Linked DNA regions of Homo sapiens: region 1 is linked to region 2. Evidence: fine-mapped expression QTL. A gene starts in region 2. The other region holds a variant in brackets. All regions are shown on one strand. Distances are from middle to middle. Region 1 overlaps CDH13 (cadherin 13). Region 2 holds the start of CDH13-AS2 (CDH13 antisense RNA 2).

Region 1 (12,928 bases), 75 kb before region 2:
AGCAGGGCTAGCAGGACTAGCAGGACAAGACAGAGTTTGAATGAGATCGTTGCATCTAAGTGGAATAAGGAGAAGCTGATAATGCAAGAAGGTCAACCATCTCACACACATCTAGGGACCGTGGGGAAACCCATTTTGCTAGAGTAGAGAGATTGGATGAGGAAGTACAGGCTGCACCCTGGAGCCAAGCTAAGTAAACTGGACTTCATTCTGAACTGGGAGTGGAGGGGTCCATGTGCAAAAGAGCACTGTGGGAGGATCCAGGGGACACTGGAGCCCTGGAGCTTGTTAGGAAGCAAGCTACTCATTCCCAGGGAAGAAAGAGGAGGACTCAGAGTGGGGAGGAGTGTGCCACATGAAAGGTGCCCACAGTATTCAAATCCCAACTTCGCTGCCTGCTAATTATGTGAACCGATGCTGGCTACACAATCTCTCTGAGCCTTGCTATTCTCATCCCTGAAATGGCAATAGTAATCCCAGCCTCAAACAATGATAGTTAAGATTATATGAAATATCATGCATGTAGTGCCAGCTACATATGTACAGTGTCCAACCCCACAAAGGGGATCCCTGTTATTCGTAGGGAGATGGTGTAGCAGTGTTGCCCTAGAGCCAATTCATAGCAGTTTGCAGGGGCCAGTTGTTACCATCTCTTTGTAGCTGTGCATTCAGTGACATCGTGGGAGTAACTCGAAACTGGCCACATTGGAAATACTTCTATCATGGAATTAGACAAACACTATTAATTCAAGCTTTCCCCACCTCCAGAGAATCAGATGTTAAACATTTGCCAGTGTTCCTCTGGCAAAGAAAAGGAAAATAGCCAGAGGTAAGTGAAATCAAATGAGAGAAGTCTAACCTTGCAAAACTGAGCCAACTGCACTGATGTATCCTGTTGTCTGTCCCACACCCTCGCAAGGCTTTTGGTCTTTGTCCAGCAGAGTCACCACGTCTTATTCAGGTTACAGTGCTGAGCTATTTGGAAACCAGGCTGGGGGGGTGGATTTCAATGTCATCTTACTAAAAAAGTTCACTAATGAAAAGTGTATTGCTAAGACAGCAGCTTCATATTTCTCCCAGTCTTTATCAGCAGCCATGGATTGAATCGTTGACTTGATTTTACTACACTGAGGTCCCACTGAGGAAGGCCAAGTTCCTAAATCATGCACCTGACAGGTGCCATATTTCTGAGCACAGAGCTGAGCTGTGACCTTCTAGTTTCACAGTAACTAGAGCTGGGTGACATGCTTAATAAAGGGAGTACATGGTGCATTTTTAAAATATGGAATGAAGGTGGAATCATGCAGACATGTCAGTCTGAAACTGGTTACCAGAAGCAAGGTGATCAATCTTCCTGCCTGTCTTAGGATGCTGATGTGAGAAGCACGATGACTTTCACTTGGCAGAAGGATTTGGAAGTATCTGGGCTTGATAAGCTACCTCATGCCAAGGACCATGCTCTGTATACGACTTCATCTTTTCACCCACCCTATGAGTGAGGTTTTAGTGTCTCCATTTCACATATAGAGAAGTAAAAGCTTGGAAGGTTAGCACCTCTCTCCATGTCCCACAGATACTAAAGGGCTGAGCCAAGATTTGAGTGTGCTTTTGTCTGATTCGCCTCTGCTTGGCCCTCTGTCTCCAAGCTGCTGCTTAGCTGGAGGCTCCTCAGTGACATCAGCTCACTGTGGCTCCCTCTGCCTGGAATGTTCTCCCTTGCCCAGGCCTTCATGTGACTGTCTCCTTTTCACTTCAGTCTCACTATCATCTCCTTTGCAAGGCTTTCCCTGATCACCTTCGCTAAAGAAGCCCTCCTCAACTCTGCCCACCTGTCACTGGTCACTCCCTGTACTGTTGCCCAATGGGACGGCTTTCAGAGCACATACCACTCTCTGAAGTTATCGTATTGTGTGTTAACTATTTTTATGATCTCCCTTCCTCTTGTAGAACAGAAGCTCCATGAGAACAGGAATTTCATGCCTTGTTCTCTTTCATATATGCAGAGTAAAGAAGAATGTCTGACATATAATAGCTACACAATAAATATTGAAAGAATGAGGGGATGGGTGGACAGATGCATAGATCCATGGAAGAATGGATGGATGGATGGATGGATGGATAGATGGATGGATACATGAATTGATGGATGCATGGATAGACACATGGATGAGTGATGAATGCCTGGGTGGGTGATGAATGCATGGATGAATGTGGAATGCATGGATGGATGATGAATGCATGGGTGGGTGATGAACGCATGGGTGAGTGGTGAATGCGTGGGTGAGTGATGAATGCATGGGTGAGTGTGGAAAGCATGGGTGGGTGATGAATGTATGGGTGAGTGATGAATGCATGGGTGGGTGATGAATGCATGGGTGGGTGATGAATACATGGGTGAGTGATAAATGCATGGGTGGGTGATGAATGCATGGGTGGGTGATGAATGCATGGATGAATGTGGAATGCATGGGTGGATGATGAATGCATGGGTGGGTGATTAATGCATGGGTAGGTGATGAATGCATGGGTGAGTGATGAATGAATGGATGAGTGTGGAATGCATGGCTGAGTGATGAATGCATGGGTGGGGGATGAATGCATGGGTGGGTGATGAATGCATGGGTGAGTGATGAATGCATAGGTGAGTGAGGAATGCATGGGTGGATGATGAATGCATGGGTGGATGATGAATGCATGGATGAGTGTGGAATGCATGGGTGAGTGATAAATGCATGAGTCGGTGGATGAATGCATGGATGAATGATGAATGCATGAATGGATGGATACATGGATGGATGAAGTTGTACAAGCTCAAACCAGCTCAGATTGGAGGAAGCGTCTTACTTGAAGCCCCCTGTGACTATGTTGGGGCTTGTCTCCTACCATCTCACTGAAGGAGCCTATCTCCTAAGCTCTCTCCTAGACACCTGTATCCTTACTTTCCCCTCCCTTCCCAGCCTGAGCAGTGTCAGCGTCAGGAGCAAGATGATTGATGAAGTGTCAGCAGGGACACAACCAGCTGGGTGAGCAGGGGCTATATTGTAACCTGCAGCCAGGAGCTGCTCCCTTGAGATGGCCTTTGGGTACAACTCTATATGGCTTCCCAGCCTTTCTTCCAGCTGCAGGATCATCCTACCCCTGGGACTCCCTTATTGGTGTCCTCATTAGGCCAATCAATGCAAATTAAGCCCTGATTCACAGATAGTGGGGATATACAGTCACCACGACACATATGGCCTCTGTCATCCAGTTTCACTCAGTCTAGAGAAAGAAAGAGATGAATAAACAGACCCTTTTAGTATAAAAGCTATGATGAAAGTGACATTTGAGGTGAAAACACTACAATATAACAGCAGCAGAGAGAAAGGCACATCAGTCAAAGTCAAGGAAGGAAGGGACAGCTGGGCTCAGACTTGCAGGTAGACCAGGGCAAGGATGTTCAGGCAGAGGAAATGGGATAAACAAAGGCATGGTGGCCAAGAGAGCTAGATCCGTTCACTCAACACACAGGCAGGACTGCAACGGGTCTTGTGTATCCTGTGGATCTAATCTATCCTTAGGCGTCAGTCTGGGAAACATGAGTTCCGTCTTCTCCACTAATCTGGGAAGGAGGGTCAAGTGGTACCTCTGTCTCCACCTCCTCCAGGCCTACACAGTTTGTGACTGACATACTGAGCACCAGGTCTGCATCACCCACCTTATCACATGTGGGCACAGGATCTCTGCCGGGGGCAAGCGGTATGATGTGTCCTGGTCACGGTCTGGCTGGTGATTTGGTTACATCCAGACACGGAAGTCGACCTAGAATAACCTAAGACAAAGGCAGTCGTTTCTCTGGCTGACATTGTCAGAACGTTAAACAACCAAAAACAGCAACAAAGTGATGGGCCAAGCAGGCAAGTTTGGGAACAGCTTTAATGACTAATTTCTAATGAGAGTTTCAAAACACTAATTTTCCAGAACAGAGAATCAAGTTGTGCTCATTTATAACCCGTCATCTGCAATGAGACAGAGGATATTTCTTTCTGTGTTGTCAGTTAACTTTCTGAGCTGGACAGAATACAAACTAGAAGAGGTGGGCCGTAAATCAGCTCCTTTGGAACTGATAAATGGATATTGTACAAATCCTGCATTTGCATTGGCTCTGAGGACATAAATCAATTCTCATGATCTTACTTTGGAAAAAAATTTCCCTTTGAAGTCAGACTGAGCGATTTATGTAGCATTCTTTCCTGACTTTATTTTTCTCAGCTTTTTAATGATTGTCTTTTCACTTTCTGCACTTACACAACATTGTAAAGTGTTGCATTTTCATGTAGAGAAAACTGGACCTTGGTCTGAATCTTCCCACAAGGGATAATTTTATAACTTTTTTGCTCAGCCATTGAATAACAATTGCTTTTGGAAAGATTGTCATAATGTATCAGTTAGAAGGCACCTTAGAGACCATCATTTCACATGACCTCTGTTTTTTAGATGGGGAAACTGAGGCCCAAGAGTGACAGTCATGTGCTGCAGGTCACAGGCCAAGTTTGTGACAAGACCGGGGTGTCTGTTCGGGTTTTGGAGAAACAAGGACCCTAGATAGGGTCCATTCATTCATTCATTTATTTATTTATTTGTTCATTCTCCAGACAAATCGTTATCTTGGCCCCTTCTGCTGCAGCCATTGCCACTAAGAAGGCAGGCCCTGCAGGGGAGACTCTGCACGTCTTTTGTTTGTTGAGTATTTGCTAAACGGGCAAAAAATGGAAGAAAAATCAAAACATCACTGTTGGCTGGGCACGGTGGCTCACGCCTGTAATCCCGGCCCTTTGGGAGGCCGAGGCGGGCAGATCACGAGGTGAGGAGATCAAGACCATCCTGGCTAACACGGTGAAACCCCGTCTCTACTAAAAATACAAAAAAAAATTAGCCGAGCGTGGAGGCGGGCCCCTGTAGTCCCAGCTACTCGCGAGGCTGAGGCAGGGGAATGGCGTGAACCCGGGAGGCGGAGCTTGTAGTGAGCGGAGATGGCGCCACTGCGCTCCAGCCTGGGGCGACAGAGCAAGACTCTGTCTCAAAAAAAAAAAAAAATCACCGTCCTTTTTTGGCGTTCTGTCAGTCAAGAGTATTCTGAAGACTATCGAGGGAGGAGTGTTTGGTTTGTGCCTTGTTTTGTTCTGTTTTAGCAGCCCTGGAAATCATGGATACCTCCCTTCCTTGAAGTTATCTTTCCCATGTATAACAGCTGTATTGATTTATGAGATATAATTCACATACCGTACAATTCACCCATTTAAAATATACAATTCAATGGTTTTTAGTGTAGTCACAGAGTTGTGCAACCATCACCGCCCTCGATTTTAGAACATTTTCAGCACCCTAAAGAGAAGCCCCATCCCCCTTAACCGTTAACGTGCTTCCTTCTCCCCACTGCTCTAGTGACCACTAACCAGCTTCCTGTCTCTGTGGGTTTGCCTAGTACGGACATTTCATCGGAATGAAATCAGCTAA[CAT/C]GTGATATCCTTAATGGTTTTGTAGCAGAAAGACATCTACGTGGGAAGGGACGCTGCTGAGTGTTTAGAGAACAGACACATTCATCATTTTATTGTATTTTCTCAACTTTAGAACAGTTTTCAAACATGTGGAAACGTTGGAAGAATTTTATAGCAAGCACCCTTTGCCCCATCACCGAGATTCTCCCAGCACATCTTCTTCTGCTTGCTTTATTTAGTGCACACCTATCCACCTGTTCCAGAGATCACCACTGCGGCAGTGGGTTCTCAAAGGAGAACCTTCCAACCTTCCCGCATTGAGAAAGAAAAATATCAGTTTTACTAAATGAAATATCAACATTGGAGATTTTATAAGCCGAGAATGTTAGTACATCAACATTAGAAGCCCTAAAAAATAAAATTGCATTCAAAGGCCAAAAAAGTCTTAGGCTTGCTAGCTCTCCAGGAAAGGCCTGTGTGTTCAGGACAGGAGGACTAAGGACCAAACAGGTTTGGGAATGACAGATCCCTTGACGGAACTGGCTGACAACTTTGCTCACCAGTCACAGCAGGGCAGCCCAGGGAGTGAACAGGGGCGTTGGCGGGGAGGGCAGCCATTCCCGCCCGCTGCTAATGGGCTCGCTTCTCAAAGGAGCTTTTGGGATTCAAGGGTTTAAGTATCAAGTTTGACTGATGGATTTGGAGGGAAGAATTGAAAACTGCCTGAGGGAAGGCGCTTTGCTTTTTCTTTTGTGAGGCAAAAGCTTTTGAAAACTGTGACTGTACAAAGAGCCACAGCTCCTCTGAGGAGTCTGTTATGCGGCAACACATACTCAGATGTGGACAGCAGTGAGCACGCTGCCTGGAAAGGGGGAACAGCACCGCGGGCAGGCTTCAGAGCCACACACCACGTCTCTGTCTCAGAGTCTATCCTCGACCACAGGGTTTAAGTCTTTGATGTGCACACTGGGCCCTGGAGAGAAGGTGCCTGTTCTCACGGGCTGACCCCACAAGCCTGTGAGCCGTAAGCGGTGTGATTCGCTAACAGTTGAATGGCACTGGCTATGTGTGTATGTGTATGTGTGTGCGTGTGTGTGTGTGTGTGTGTTGTGAAGATACATTTAGTTTGAGTCCCTATGAAACGAGGAGAAAAGGTCTTGACAAACAACAGTTCAATAGCTCCTGCCAATATGTGCAATGCAATTCTTTTTAGTGAGTGAATTAGGCTTGATAAGAACTACATTAAAGCTTCTGTTGGAAGAGGAATTCAAAATGCTCATCTTTGTAATTTACCCACTCAGTCACCAGTGTTTACCAAGTGCCAATGGAAGCCTGGAGAGAAGAGAAAGCAAAGATAAATAAGCGTGTCTCTCGGCCTTCAAAGCACTGTGCCCAGCAGGAAGGAAAGCACACAATTACGACATGCCGTTTTTATTGTATATATGTTTATATATTAGGTTGGGCCATGTGAAATTGCTGATGTGACGGGTTTTGACGAGAGAAATGGCAACTGTGTGGTTCAACCTAATATTTAGATAGTATTGTCTTAGCTCAGGCTGCCATAACCAAATACCACAGACTGGGCAGCTTGAATACAGACATGTATTACTCACAGTTCTGGAGGCTGGAAGTCCAAGATCATGGTTCTAGCTGGTTCAGTCTCTGGGGAGGGCTCTCTTTCTGGCTTGCAGACAGCCACCTTCTTGCTGTGTCCTCATGTAGCCTCATTTCCTTGGGGCATGTACCTGGAGGGTGGGGATTAGGGAGCATACAGGGTCTCCTTTTATAAGGATCCTCATCCTATCAGATCAGAGCTCCATCCTCATGACCTCATGTAACCTTAACTTCCTAAGGAGAGGCCCACCTCCAAGTACTGCCACAATGGGGGTTAGAGTTCTATCAACATCCGAATTTGGGGGGAACAGCAACAAATGTTCAGTTCACAAGTATAAAATGGATATATTATTTATGTGCATATACATCATATACTGTTACATATCATAGATAAGACATGCATATTATACATATGTGTATGTATATATAGTAAATATACCATCTATAGTAATAAGGTTTCACAAAGAAGAGAAAATGGAAATGTAGAGATATAAAGGAAATCATCTTTGTATTACTAGTCTTTTTATTGCCAAAAAAATTTTATTTGCAAAACAAATATAGGCTCATGGTAAAAATTTTAGCAACTGAGATAGGCAAAACTAAGAAAGATGTAAATCCCACTAGCCAGATACCACTACTCCTAAGACCCAGGTCAGACAGCGAGGCATCACTGTTAAGAGCATGGGCGCTATGGTTGGACAACTCTATCACTTACTAGCTGTGTGTCCTGGACCCAGCTACTTAGTCCCTCACCACCTCTGTTTCTTCATCTATATAATGGGTCAGTAATCCCACCCACATGAAGTTATTGTTAGACTTAAATAAGCTGACCCATGTAAAGTGCTTGGAAATTCCCTGGCACAAAGCAAGTGCTCAATAAATATTATCTGTGACTCTATTATTATCATCATCATGATCATAATTATTACCGCAACTGCCACTAGCATTCCCTTCCAAGGTATTTTCTCAGCCAGCAGCAGCAAATCTGTTTGGGATTGTATGTCAAGCCCTGTGAAAAAGAAGGGTTTGGCACACAGGGCTTCATACAAAGAGGGGTTTTGAAGCTGACCTGGCCATTGCCAAGTCATTACCGTGCTTGTGAGAAGGGGGCAGCGAGCCTGCCACATGTTTGCATGTGGACCCTCACGGTGCTATACACATACCTACCTACTATAAAGATTTACTTCGTATGTGTTGTCATCTTGTCATGCTGTGTTCATCATGGCTTTTAATGTCTACGTAGCATTCCATTATCACTTTTGATCAACAGTTCCCTGATTGATTTTTTATTTTTCTATAGTAAACATTGAAGGAGAAAATATAATTGTCGCTAAATATTTCAGCCAAATAAGTCTGAGCTATGCATTATTCTAAGGCCCTCTCTCAGATCTTCACAATGCAAATCTGAGTATTAAAGGCTCTGAGAATTCTTGCGCAAAGGGGGACCTCATTTGATGTTATTAACCTGGCATTCCCCAGTTTTGGAATGTGCTCCCTATAGCTATTTCTTTAAGCTAAATAATTAGAGGAAGAATTTCTGGGTCAAAGAATATGTACAGTTCCAAGAGATTTTCATTTGTTTCCCTCTAGAATGTTGTTTTAGGAACTGACAAACTTGGAGATACCTCCTTCTGGGCTAAACTGTGACTTTTTAAAATCACAATTCGATGAAAAGTTCAACACACTAAAATATACGGTGGTATTCTTTTAAAAAATTCATACAATTGAACTGGGTACAAAGGATCACCTGGGTTTTTTGTTTGTTTGTTTTTGTTTTGTTTTCGTTTTTTGGTTTGTGGTTTTTTTGAGCTTTTAGATTCAGGGGGTCCATGGGCAGGTTTATTACCTGGGTCTATTGCGTGTTGCTGAAGTTTGGGGTATGAGTGATCCCATCACCCAGACAGTGTGCATAGTACCCGATAGTTTTCAACCCTTACACCCCTTCCATGCTCCCCCTTCTAGTAGTCCCCAATGTCTATTGCTCCCATCTTTGTGTCTGTGTGTACTCAATGTTTAGCTCCCACTTAGAACTGAGAACATGCAGTATTTGGTTTTCTGTCCCTGTGCTAATTCGCTTAGGTTAATGGCCTCCAGCTGCATCCATGTTGCTGCAAAGAACACAATTTCATCCTTTTTCACAGCTGCATAGTATTCCATGGTATACACGCACTGCATTTTCTTTATCCATTCCACCATTGATGAGCACCTGGATTGGTTCCTTGTGCTTGCCATTGTGCATTGTGCTGTGATAAACATACAAGTGCATGTGTCTTTTTGGCAAAACAATTTATCTTCTTTTGGATAAACACCCAGTAGTAGGATTGCTGAGTCAAATGGTAGTTCTGTTCTAAGTTCTTTGAGAAATCTCCAAACTGCTTTGGACAGGGGCTGAACTGATTTACATTCGCACCAACAGTGTATAAGAGTTCCCTTTTCTCTGTAACCTGGGCAGCATCTGTCATTTTTTGACTTTTTAATAATAGCTATTCTGACTGGTGTGAGATGGTATCTCATTGTGGTTTTGATTTGCATTTCTCTGAGGATTAGTGACGTGGAGCATTTCTTCATATGTTTGTTGACCGCACGTATGTGTTCTTTTGCAAAGTGTCTGTTCATGTCTTTGACCATTTTGTAATGGGGTAGTTGTTTGCTTGTTGAGTTGTTAAAGTTACTTATAGATTCTGGATATTAGACCTTTGTTGGAAGCATAATTTGTGAATATTTCTTTCCATTCTATAGGTTGTCTGTTTATTCTGTTGATAGTTTCTTTGCCAATTTTTGTTTTTGGTGCAATTGCTTTTGGGGACTTTGTCATAAATTCTTTGCCAAGGTCAATGTGCAGAATGCTATTTCCTAGGTTTTTTCCAGCTGGATTCTTTTCTCGTCTTCTGGCAAGTCAGTTTAGAAGAGGTTGATTTATTCAGAAAGTATCCATTTTCTTTTTCTAGACTTCAGACAGGAAAATGTAAAATGAGCAAAATTCTCGTGTATAAACTAGCTCAAAGGTTTGTGGAAGATTTAAATGCTGCATGACAGGTAGCAGGTAGTCGATAAATGCCAGTTGTGAATATTGCTTTTCAGATTAAATAACAAGGCTGAAAGTAAATGTTTTGGACAGGCTAGCTATTCTTCATACATCCAACCTAAAGGTAATCATCCTGGTTTATTTATTTATTCAAAAAATATTGAAAAATTCACACTGTGAGCCGGGTCCTAACTAGCCCTGAGGATAGCAGTGAACAAGACAGTGTGGAGTTTCCATTCTAGTGGGAAGACCGGCAATGAACAAGCCAATGAATGTCTGATCACACAACCGGTGTGATTACAGCTTACAGCTCTTTCCCATGGGAGAGTCAACAGCTTAATGGGATGGAGAGTAACTGGAGAAGGCCACCTTAGATGGGCTGGTTAGGAGGGAGATGATGTGTGATCTGAAGAGTGATAATGAACCAGCCAAGGGGAGAGGTGAGGGGGAGAAACCAACAGCTAATGCAAAGGCTGGGACGATGGGAGAGCCTGGCTAGCTTTGGACTGGGGAACAGGGTGAGTTGATGGTGGGAGGTGAGCAGTGATCAGTCCCCAAAGCCACAAAGGTTTTGAAGCCTGAAAGGGACATGACGTACATTTTTTAAATCTCACTCTCCTGTTCTGTGAGCAACAGAATAGAGGACCCGGAAACTGTAGTAGGGTTCTGTTTCTACACTAGTGCTAATGTAGAACCTCCTACATCCAGAAAGATGATAGCAGAGCTGAGCCACATTCTTCCTGGCAACTGATGTTCCCACACGTAGAAACAGCTGGCATCCTCATACAGAGGGAGGCTTGCAGGCCCAGGATACATCTCATCCCCCTTGCTAATCTCAGTACTTGACACCCCTGACCTCACCAGGGGCACCAAACCCAACTGCTTCCTGCAGGGATTCAGCTGCACTTGTCATCACAGAGCCTTGAAATCCCTGGGGATATCAACTCCTTGGAATTCCAGGCTGCTCTTCCACTTGCTTCTGACACATTGACTTTTCTGCCCATTCACTCACCCATCTTTAACCAAGGCCTGTATGGCCAGACATGAGGCCACTCACTGCCTACATGAAGAGGGAAAGACAAAGTGTATCCCTGGGAGCTCGCTACCTTGTGTGAAAATTACAACATCAGATAGTAAATGCCTTGGTGAAGATACGCATCCCAAGGGCAGGAAGCTCCCCACCTTGATCACTGCAAACTCCCCAGTCCCTAACAGAATACTGGGAAGATAGAAGGTGGTCAAAGCGTATGTATGGAATGAACACTGGAAATCAGTACACAGGGCTGGGAATGTGTGATTCTGAGCACTCAGTGATGGAAATAACCCTCCAGCTCCTTCACAGAACAGCCAGCAGCATCACCTGTTTTGGTGATGGTGCCTCCGGATGATGATCCGTGAGCGCACACTGGACTCGTGCTCCTGGGTGAGCTCTCTCCTTGTGAAACCCAGATGCTTCTGTCTCCCAGGGACCCTGCAGCCCTCCCGGTAACCTGGCCTCCATCACGAATGCAGTCTCTATAGACGGTTGTCTATTAGGATGCCACTGGAGAGGGAGGTCCCGTCATCACCTAAGCTAAGCACAGCTGCCTCTAAGTACCTCCTTGCTTGGCAGCCGGCCAGACCACATTCACTGAGCTTCAAGTCATAATGCGAGGCTCAGCCATCTATCTCACTGTGGTCCCCGCTGCAGCTGGCTTCATTTATTGACTTCTTGAAAGTGGCAATATCCATGCTCAGCTTGGTCTGAGCTGGACTCAGAGACCCAGGTGCCAGAGCAAAGGCCATGGTGTGTCGGTTAATCACCCAATAAAAATAAACTCTGAGAACAAATACAGAGGGGTGATTAACTTTCCCATTCTGGTCTTCTGACATCCCAGTTTGCTCTCCCAGTGAGCGTGTTTCTTTGAGATAAACCACCCTGGGAAACTGATCACCTGTCCAGACACCACCATGCCTTGGCGTAAGTGGACAAAAGTGGAACGTGACCTGCAAGCAGCGCAGCCTGAGACTTAGGCAGAGAGCCCCCTGCCCCAGGTTCCATGCTGCTGAGGGCCTTATCAGAAACTCTGAAGCAGAGCACCAGACTATTTTATTCTGCTTTTTGCTCTTGTAATAAAGTGTTATTAGTGTTTAGTCACCAGATTAAACCCCAAAGCCTTACCTCCCCTCCTGTGACCATCCATGTACTCCAAATCATGAACCAAAAAACAGGGACCACCAACAGCCCTTACCAAAAGAAGACTGGAAGCACAAAAAAGCAACTTACCATGAATCAATTTAAAGTGAAGACCAAAGTGTGACTCAAAACTGAAAAAATATATGTATTTGGTTAAGATGTAATTGTTACCGAAGCACCAGGGGTTTGGTCTGGGTCCTGCTGTTCACTGCACAGAAAGCCAATCACTGAGACAAGACAAAAGCCAGGGAAGAAGGCTTTAATCGGGTGCTGCTGCAGCCAAGGAAATGGGAGGTCAGTCTCAAATCCATCTCTGAAATGAGGGGTTGATGCACCAGAGAGGAAATGTAACCGTGTTTGGGAAAACATGGATGAAATTGGAAATCATCATTCTCAGTAAACTATCGCAAGGACAAAAAACCAAACACCGCATGTTCTCACTCATAGATGGGAATTGAACAATGAGAACACATGGACACAGGAAGGGGAACATCACACTCTGGGGACTGTTGTGGGGTGGGGGAAGGGGGGAGGGATAGCATTAGGAGATATACCTAATGCTAAATGACGAGTTAATGGGTGCAGCACACCAGCATGGCACATGTATACATATGTAACTAACCTGCACATTGTGCA
Region 2 (8,432 bases):
TCCCTTCCATGGCTTGTTAGCAGGTAGATGAGGGGCTTCTCCTAGATTAATTTAACATCTCAGTTAATCAAAAGTAGCCGGGCATGGTGACTCATGCCTGTAATCCCAGCCCTTTGGGAGGCAGAGGCGGGTGGATCACTTAAGGTCAGGAGTTCAAGACCAGCCTGGCCAGCATGGTGAAACCCTATCTCTACTAAAAAATACAAAAATTAGCTGGGTGTGGTGGTGCACACCTGAAACCCCAGCTACTCAGGAGGCTGAGGCAGGAGAATCGCTTGAACCCAGGAGGCAGAGTTTGCAGTGAGCCATTGCACTCCAGCCTGGGCAACAGAGCAAGACTCCGTCAAAAAAAAAAAAAAAAAAAAAGAAAGAAAAGGAAATTTATGAACTCCAGAGTACCCATTCACTACCAAACCAACTGAGGGGAGAGAAAACTGAGGGAGAAAGTGGGGTGGGGTCTCAAAGGGTTTGCACTGTGCTTTGCTATAAATCATTCAAAGGGGCAAATTCTAAAGGATCTCTAAGTAGTTGCTGATTTTGTAAAGGTAGCCCATAAATCTGTTTACGTGTAGCTGCCTTAAACATGAGTCAACAGGGTAAGTCACACCAACAGGAAACCCAAGCACTAAAAAAGCCACCTACCTTTTCTGTTTACCAAATACTAAGAATAATAATCTAATAATCTGGCTACATCTTTCATAAAGACCTCCATCTTCTCTCCTTAACTGACTGTTGAGATTTGATAATTTTCACAGTCTAATGATAAAATGCTTTCAAAATGGTTCATCTAACACAATTAACAATTCTTTTACTATATGCAATGTGTTACCCTTACTATATTTCCTATTGCTAATAGATTAGCCCACTATTGAAAAAATTCTGCAGTTGTGACCGTGTTCACATGAAAGCATATACAAGACATGGAGAGACAGCAAAAAATGGTGGGAATGGGTGTGTGTATGAGGGTTTCAGATAAGAACTTCAATTATATAATTTAAGAAGAGTCAGTCTATAATTTAAGCAGAAATAATTGAGATACTCATCAAATTAAGTAAGCGGAAAAATTTCCTCTCTCTCATACTATGTTGCTATCATCACATCTATCGTTGGAGGGTTGCTGAGCTTGATACGCCTTTGAACCATTTTATTTGACTTTCCACGTGCCGTCTCATTGGTAGGGAGATGGTGAAAAGCGTTGGGTGGTGTAGGACGAGGGAGGTTTTCACTCTGAAGCTATGAAGATTTGGAGAAAGGGGCTTATAGAAGCACTATGAAAATAAACTGGAGACTATTTTTTTGCTACTTTTTAAAAAGCTTTTTCTTTAGAGAGTACTAAAGCCATTCTATATCTGTCGTACACATGAATTCAGACTATTATTAGAGAGTTATATCTGTGTTGTCATGCACATGTCAACACTGTCCTGATGACAAAATTTTATGTATCCCCCCAGATAAAAATTTTAAGAAATTTTAAATGCTTTTTATTCACACACACTTTTCAAAAGGGATAAAAGTTAATCATGTTAAAATATTCAGTCTATGGCAGATGTCGCTCCTTTGGGCCCTCACTGCTGAATTGCTTACAGTTTCTGAGCTGTAAACTAACATTTGCTTTACTATGTAGTTACAGAGAAATGTGCAACTTGTTTGTGAAACATTCAAATAAAGCTTATCTGGGATTTTTAACTTGTGTGTTTAGTCTTAGACCATCTTTAGTACAGTCTGGTCTAAACACTGTGACAGAGCAAAGGGACCTTTTTTTCCAATGGTGCACAGTGTCATGGGTGCAACTGGCTGGTGCCGGTGTTGTGGATGGTAAAAGAATTTACCGGCAGGGCGTGGTGGCTCACGCCTGTAATCCCAGCACTTTGGGAGGCCAAGGCGGGCAGATCACCGGAGGTCAGGAGTTCGTGACCAGCCTAGCCAAAGTGGTGAAACCCCATCTCTACCAAAAATACAAAAATTAGCTGGGCACAGTGGCGCATGCCTGTAATCCCAGCTACTCAGGAAGCTAAGGCGGGAGAATCGCTTGAACCTGGGAGGCGGAGGTTGCAGTGAGCCGAGATAGCGCCGCTGCACTCCAGCCTGGGTAACAGAGTGAGACTCTGTCTCAAAAAAAAAAAAAAAGAAGAAGAAGAAGAAGAAGAAGAATTTACCAATTTACCAAGACAGTTGTAGGTAAAGAAAGGCTGATTATTCAAGGGAAAGTACGTTGCAAGGAAGCAACAGGCAGCACAGCAGAGAAGGGGATGTCTGGAAAGAGGCAGGGGCTGGAGGGAAGTTTTATAGGGTTGTGCTGGAGGATGTTACACTTGGAGTGAGGTAGTTGTGCCAGCGGCTTGTTTGTGATTAGCTGTCTCTTGGAACAGTTGTTCCCTACCTGGGACCCCCCTTCCTCATTGTTGCTTACTTATCAGGACTCCACACCAGGTTAGCCTATGATGTTTAAAAACCAAGACTAAAACCAAGTGCTGCCTGCTTAATAATTGGCTCTCTTCTGCTTCTTTCATAAAAGTCAATCATTCTGATTTGGAAAAACAGATATATAGATGATAGAAGGATAGATGGATAGATGATAGAGAGAGAGAGATAGAAAGAGAGAGAAGATAGCAAGAAGGTTAGTGAGATCATTTTGTAAAAAAAGGAGGGGGCCAGATGTGGTGGCTCACGCCTGTAATTCCAGCAATTTGGGAGGCAGAGGTGGGCCGATCACCTGAGGTCAGGAGTTCAAGACCAGCCTGGCCAACATGGAGAAACCTCGTCTCTACCAAAAATATAAAACTAAGCCAGGTGTAATGGTGGGCACCTGTAATCCCAGCTACTCAGGAGGCTGAGGCAGGAGACTCTCTTGAACCTGGGAGCCGGAGGTTGCAGTGAGCCAAGATAGTGCCACTGCACTCCAGCCTGGGCAACAGAGCAGAGCAAGACTCCAACTCAAAAGCGAAAAAAAAAAAAAAAAAGGGAAGGGGGTATTCGTTAAGTGCTTCCTACGGGCCGGATACTTTACGTATCTATATAGATGTGTATATACATATTACCTTGTAGTTATATTTGTAATTTATGTGTAATACATAATTATATATCATATACATAATTTATGTAATAGACATTAGCACCATTCTATAGATGAAGAAACTGAGGTTCACACAGTTAAAACTATCTCACAGTAGGTCTCACGACTACTAAGTGATATGCATGGCCCCACCCTGGCACTTTTCTTGCTATATGCTAAGGCAGCACCACCCCATTTATCTCCAGGAACAAACTGTGTCATCACAAACAATGCATGAAAGTGCTGAGGACTAAGCAAGTTGTCAATGATGGGGGATGAAGCAGAGGAAACCCAAACTTGCAAATCTGGTCTATAAGAAAACTTTCCTTCCCCCTAGGCAGTCTGTCTCCAGGAAACTGCTAGTTTGGGTAAATAAATAGCAAACGGATGCCTTGGCAGCCAGTCATAGAGACGCTAATTTGGAAATTTGCCTCAAAAGAACATAAGAAACAGAAACCAATGCTTCAATCCGAAAGCAAGAGAACGTGAAATTGTCAGAACAACCACCGATCACACCATTCTCCCCGAGAAAAGCAATTTTCTAGGTTTTTGTTTGTTTGTTTGTTGTTGTTTGATTTTTTTACAAACAAGTCCTCAAAGAGACCTCCTTGTGCTTTGGTAATGCGAGGCAAAATATCCACTCATTCTAACCAGGGCACACCCTTGAGAGGGTAGCAACGCTGGATTTTTACATGGGAATCCAAGCCAAGAAGACTGGTACCAGGATGGTGGTGTTTCTAGATTAAATCTGCCGTTCTGTGTCTGTAACTAAGCCCTACCTTTGCTTGGATGATGACTGTCGTGCCCCAGCCCCTCCTCGTGCCAGCGGGACAGCATCCTCCTCCTGAGGCTTACTAGCACCTGAAGGATTGTTCTGTGAAAAACAGGGACCCAGCACCTGCTGACATCCCTCAGCATCCTCTCTGAGTTTATCCCCACGGAGAAGAAGCAAGTCGATGTTACCCTGATGCAGTCATAGTTCCTGTGCTTCCCCTTATCAAATTTTGTAACCATGTTGTTTCACAGCACACGCAATGTCTTCACCCTTTGGCTCCCTGCCTTCTTTCAAGGCAGGATTTTCTAAACTTTAATCCCAAGGGAATATCGTCCCTATTTAGCCGTCTCCCTGTCTCATCTCTCAGCACCTTCACTAACTCTGCCACACTGAAATGCCACCTGTACCATCAGCTACAACTCTAGTTTTAAACTACGTAATTTTACATTTATAATTTTGGCTTGAATTTATTTTAAAAGAAGCTGGTACATTGGCCGGGCATGGTAGCTCATACCTATCAACCCAGCATTTGGAGAGGCCAAGGCAGGTAGGTAGATGGTTTGAGCCCAAGAGTTCAAGACCAGCCTAGACAACATGGCGAAACTCCATCTCTACAAAAAATACAAAGATTAGACAAGCGTAATGGTGCATACCTGTCGCAGGAGGATTGCTGGAGTCTGAGAGGTTGAGGTTACAGGGAGCCATGACTGCGCCACTGCACTCCAGCCTGGGTGACAGAGTGAGACCCTGTCTCAAAAAAAAAAAAGAAAAAAGAAAAAGAAAACTCTACATTATAACAACATGAATGAAAAACCAGTATCACTTGGAATACAATAAAGCAGCAGTAAAAATAAATACAATGAAAACAAACAAAAAAGCATAATTACCTTTTAGCTGGATACTATGTCTACTTAAGGTCTGCGTATGAAACTCTCTGTATTAAAATGAGAGATAGATAAGGATTAGAGAGGTCTCAAAGACACAGTAATATCCACCTGAGACCCTCTGCTTGTCAGGATCACTCAAAGAGAAATGAAAATGGAATGAATGAATGTCAACCGTGTGAGTCAGGCTTTTGTATCACCTGTCCACACAGCACCTAGAACCATTTTAGTAGAAGCAAAACAAGCAAAGTTGCATGAACAGGAGGTAAGGAAGTGGATCAAGTAACTAAGACAATAAGTCCTTCCTTTCTAGAAGCTCCCCTATGAGCAGTAGCTCAACAAGGGCACACAGTCAGTGGAGGTTCACCCTGGTTGGACTGGTTTCCATTTTCTATTTGTTTTTTGTGCAGCGGGGGTGGGGCGAGGGGTTGGTCACTTTTATGTGCTGAGAAGGAGGAATCATTGGAAAAAAGAAAATGAATGCAGGAAGCAAGTTCCTGGAGTTGAGGAAAGAGAATGGGATCAGGGCCCAGGTCTCTCTGCCTTAGACAAACGCAGAGCCCTGTGCGCGAGGAAGAACACTGCTTCCTGAGACAGAAAGGATCGTTAGCTAGTGACACGGGGGTTAATGTAGGAACTTAGGAATGCACGCAGGACGGGAGTTAAGGGGTTTTGATGGACAGTCTCCATTTTCTCCACAAAATAGAATATAAGGTCATCCTCTGAGGGTGAAGGGGATAAAGTCCTGGATTTGGGGGGACCAGAAAGGTTTGGAATGGCTACTGAAGGGCCAGGGCTAGGGCAGCCCAGGTCACTAGAAGGAAGGGGCACCCTTCACTGACCCTGCTGTGGCACCGCCCATCAGGTGAAGGTTGCTCAGCAGCAGCATGAGGCAACCTGGGAGGAAAGCAAACCAGGGGAGCAGCTGCTGGGCCCCAGGGCTGGGCCTACAGAGCTGACGCAGGTGCAACTAGGCAAAGAACATTCCAGTTCCTCCAAGGCCCCGCTAGGATCATTCCATCGCTGCTCACACAAGGCAAACGCACAAAGCACCTCATTGCATGTGGTCACATGGACAGACCAACACCTTCCATAGTGTATTTTATTATTACTGTTTTTTGAGACAGAGTCACAATCTGTTGCCCAGGATGGAGTGCAGGGGATAGATCTCGGCTCACTGCAACCTCTGCCTCCCCAGGTCAAGCGATTCTCCTGGCTCAGCCTCCTGAATAGTTGGGATTACAGGTGCACGCCACCTAGCCCAGCTAATTTTTGTATTTTTAGTAGAGATGGGGTTTCGCCACACTGGCGAGGCTGGTCTTGAACTCCTGGTCTCAAGTGATCTGCCTGCCTCAGCCTCCCAAAGTGCTGGGATTACAGGCATGAGCCACCATGCCCAGCCACCTATCATAGTACAGATCCAAGAAAGGAGGCATGTCAAAAGAATGGCCCAGAGAACCAAAAAGCAATTATAAAAGTACCATAATAAGCGCACGTAAAACAAAACTGTCTTGAATGGAAAAAGGGAGTTACAACATGCAATTAATCTAGGAAGAGCTTTAAAAAAAAAATGCCAAGAGGAGGTAAGACAACTATGACACTTAAATAAAGGTTAAAAATGAGAGTTGTTCAAAACCGAAGTTTAAAGGTTAATTACTGGTGCCTTACACGTAATACATTAGTTTTGTTAATGGGACAATATTCAGTTAGGTTCGGTGTGTCAGCCCCACAAGGTGAGTATGTCAGCCATGAGTATAAATTAGTGAAGCTTCCGTGAAAAGCAGCCCTTTAACAGACCTTGGTCTCCACACAGAGAAAGCATACTGCCTGTCTGTTTAAGTGCAAAAAATAAAGGAACAAATAATGCCTCCACTAAAAGAGTATCAAGTTTGTTTGTTGTTCATGTAAAGCAAATTTCCAATTGGAATTTGAAAAAAAAAAACCACAAGTGTCTTACCAGAAAAGGAAAGAAAAACTCCAGATTCTCGTGCTAATTCATGTTCCTGAGTTGCCCACAGCCATAAGACAGGTTTGCTCAGAGATCCAGGGTGCAGGCACCCAGCTTTCTTTGCTGAGTGTGGGAGTCCCAGGGATTGGGGTCTAAAGTCAGAAGCCTGAGGGCTTTCTTCACCTTGGCTATTCACTAGTTTTTAAGGAGTTCTGAAGTTTTATGAAAAGTCTTTTACGATTAGCTGGGCATGGTGGTGCTCACCTGTAATCCCAGCTACTCAGGAGGCTGAGGCAGGAGAATCGCTTGAACCGGGGAGGCGGAGGTTGCAGTGAGTCGACATGGTGCCACTGCACTCCAGCCTAGGCAACACAGCAAGACTCCATCTCAAAAAAAAAAAAAAAAAAAAAAAAGTCTTTTAAGAAAACTGAGATACTGGCATCTAGTAGGTAGAAGTCAGAGATGCTGCCCAACGTCCTACAATATACAGGGTGCCCCCTCCACCACCAACAATAAAGAACGACTTGACTCAAATGCCAGTATTGCAGCTCTTGAGAAACTCTGCTCTAAGCTCAAAAAACTCAGAGAATTCTAGAATGGTGAGAAAAAAGGAGAAGATGCAGAGTCAGGAAGTCCTGCGTCTCTTACTTCCTTAATTTGATGACCTTGTTCCAGTTTCTTAACGCCTCTGCATCTGTTTTCTCAAAAATGTAAAATTATGATAATTATATCACAGGGTCTTCTGAGGATTAACTTAAAACACTGAGATATTTTTATTTCAAGTAGTCGGGTAAAGCACTAGCCAAATACCAGTTGACAACAGCCAATTACAAAAAAGTTGTGTATACTTACACAGAAAGGAAGATCTCTCTATAGGAAAGGATGAGGTGTGAAGGGTGAGGGGCAAAGGTGTGAGTGAGGGGGAAGGGGTGGTAAAGGGAGTTGAAGTCTCATGCCTCAAGGCCAACTGGATTCCGGGTTTGTTAGAGACACTGGTGGGTCTGGCAGAGGCGTTTGAACAAGAGCAACTCCATCTCGAATAGGAGCTGGGTAAACTGAGGCTGAGAACTACTGGGCTGCATTCCCAGACAGTTAAAGGATTCTAAGTCACAGGATGGGATAGGAGGTCAGCACAAGGTACAGGTCATAAAGACCTTGCTGATAAAACAGCTTGCGGTAAAGAAGCCGGCCAAAACCCACCAAAACCAAGATGGCAATAAGAGTGAACCCTGCTTGTCTTCATTGCTACACTCCCATTACCGCTATGACAGTTTACAAATGCCATGGCAACGTCAAGAAGTTACGCTATATAGTCTAAAAAGGGGAGGCATGAATCACCCACCCCTGGTTTAGCATATAATCAAGAAATAACTATAAAAATGAGCAACCAGCAGCCCTCAGGGCTCTGTCTATGGAGTAACCATTCTTTTATTCCTTCATTTTCTTAAACTTGCTTTCACTTTACAGACTCGCCCTGAATTCTTTCTTGCATGAGATCCAAGAACCCCCTCTCTTGGGGTCTGGATCAGGACCCTTTCCCGTAACAGCTCTAACACCTTACAGCCTCTCCCTAGCTAAAGTCAAACTGGAGCTGACCCCTCACATAGCACAGTCCTTAAATGAGATGTGTGAAAGTTTCCAGAACATGCCAGGCCCGCAGTCAAGGACTCTCCTATCCCCTTGCCATGAGACCCAATCCTAAAGACCACCTGTGGGGTTGGAACTTGAGGTTCCAAATCAGCAGTGCCCACCTCCTTCAACACCCAAACCCAC

Evidence for each region. PIP is the estimated chance that this variant, and not a neighbour inherited with it, causes the effect.
Region 1: its variant is fine-mapped to the expression of CDH13-AS2 in whole blood (TOPMed, PIP above 0.99).

What each region holds. Positions count from the first base shown.
Region 1 is chr16:83,721,778-83,734,705 of GRCh38, forward strand. All of the region lies in intron 10 of CDH13 (cadherin 13), which reads left to right. CEDORA (CDH13 antisense oligodendrocyte and neuron associated lncRNA) reads right to left here. Exons shown (of 4, transcript NR_188499.1): 2 at 7,091-7,222; 3 at 3,698-3,811; 4 at 1-55. Among named protein-coding and RNA genes, the nearest start is that of CEDORA, 45 kb to the right of the region's middle. RefSeq lists an enhancer at 6,161-6,661. The variant CAT/C (reference allele first, on the strand shown) is at 5,497.
Region 2 is chr16:83,798,955-83,807,386 of GRCh38, forward strand. It overlaps CDH13-AS2 (CDH13 antisense RNA 2), which reads right to left and starts at 5,022. Exons shown (of 3, transcript NR_120308.1): 1 at 4,715-5,022; 2 at 4,481-4,574. CDH13 (cadherin 13) reads left to right here. Exons shown (of 14, transcript NM_001257.5): 14 at 1-1,686. RefSeq lists a silencer at 3,279-3,438.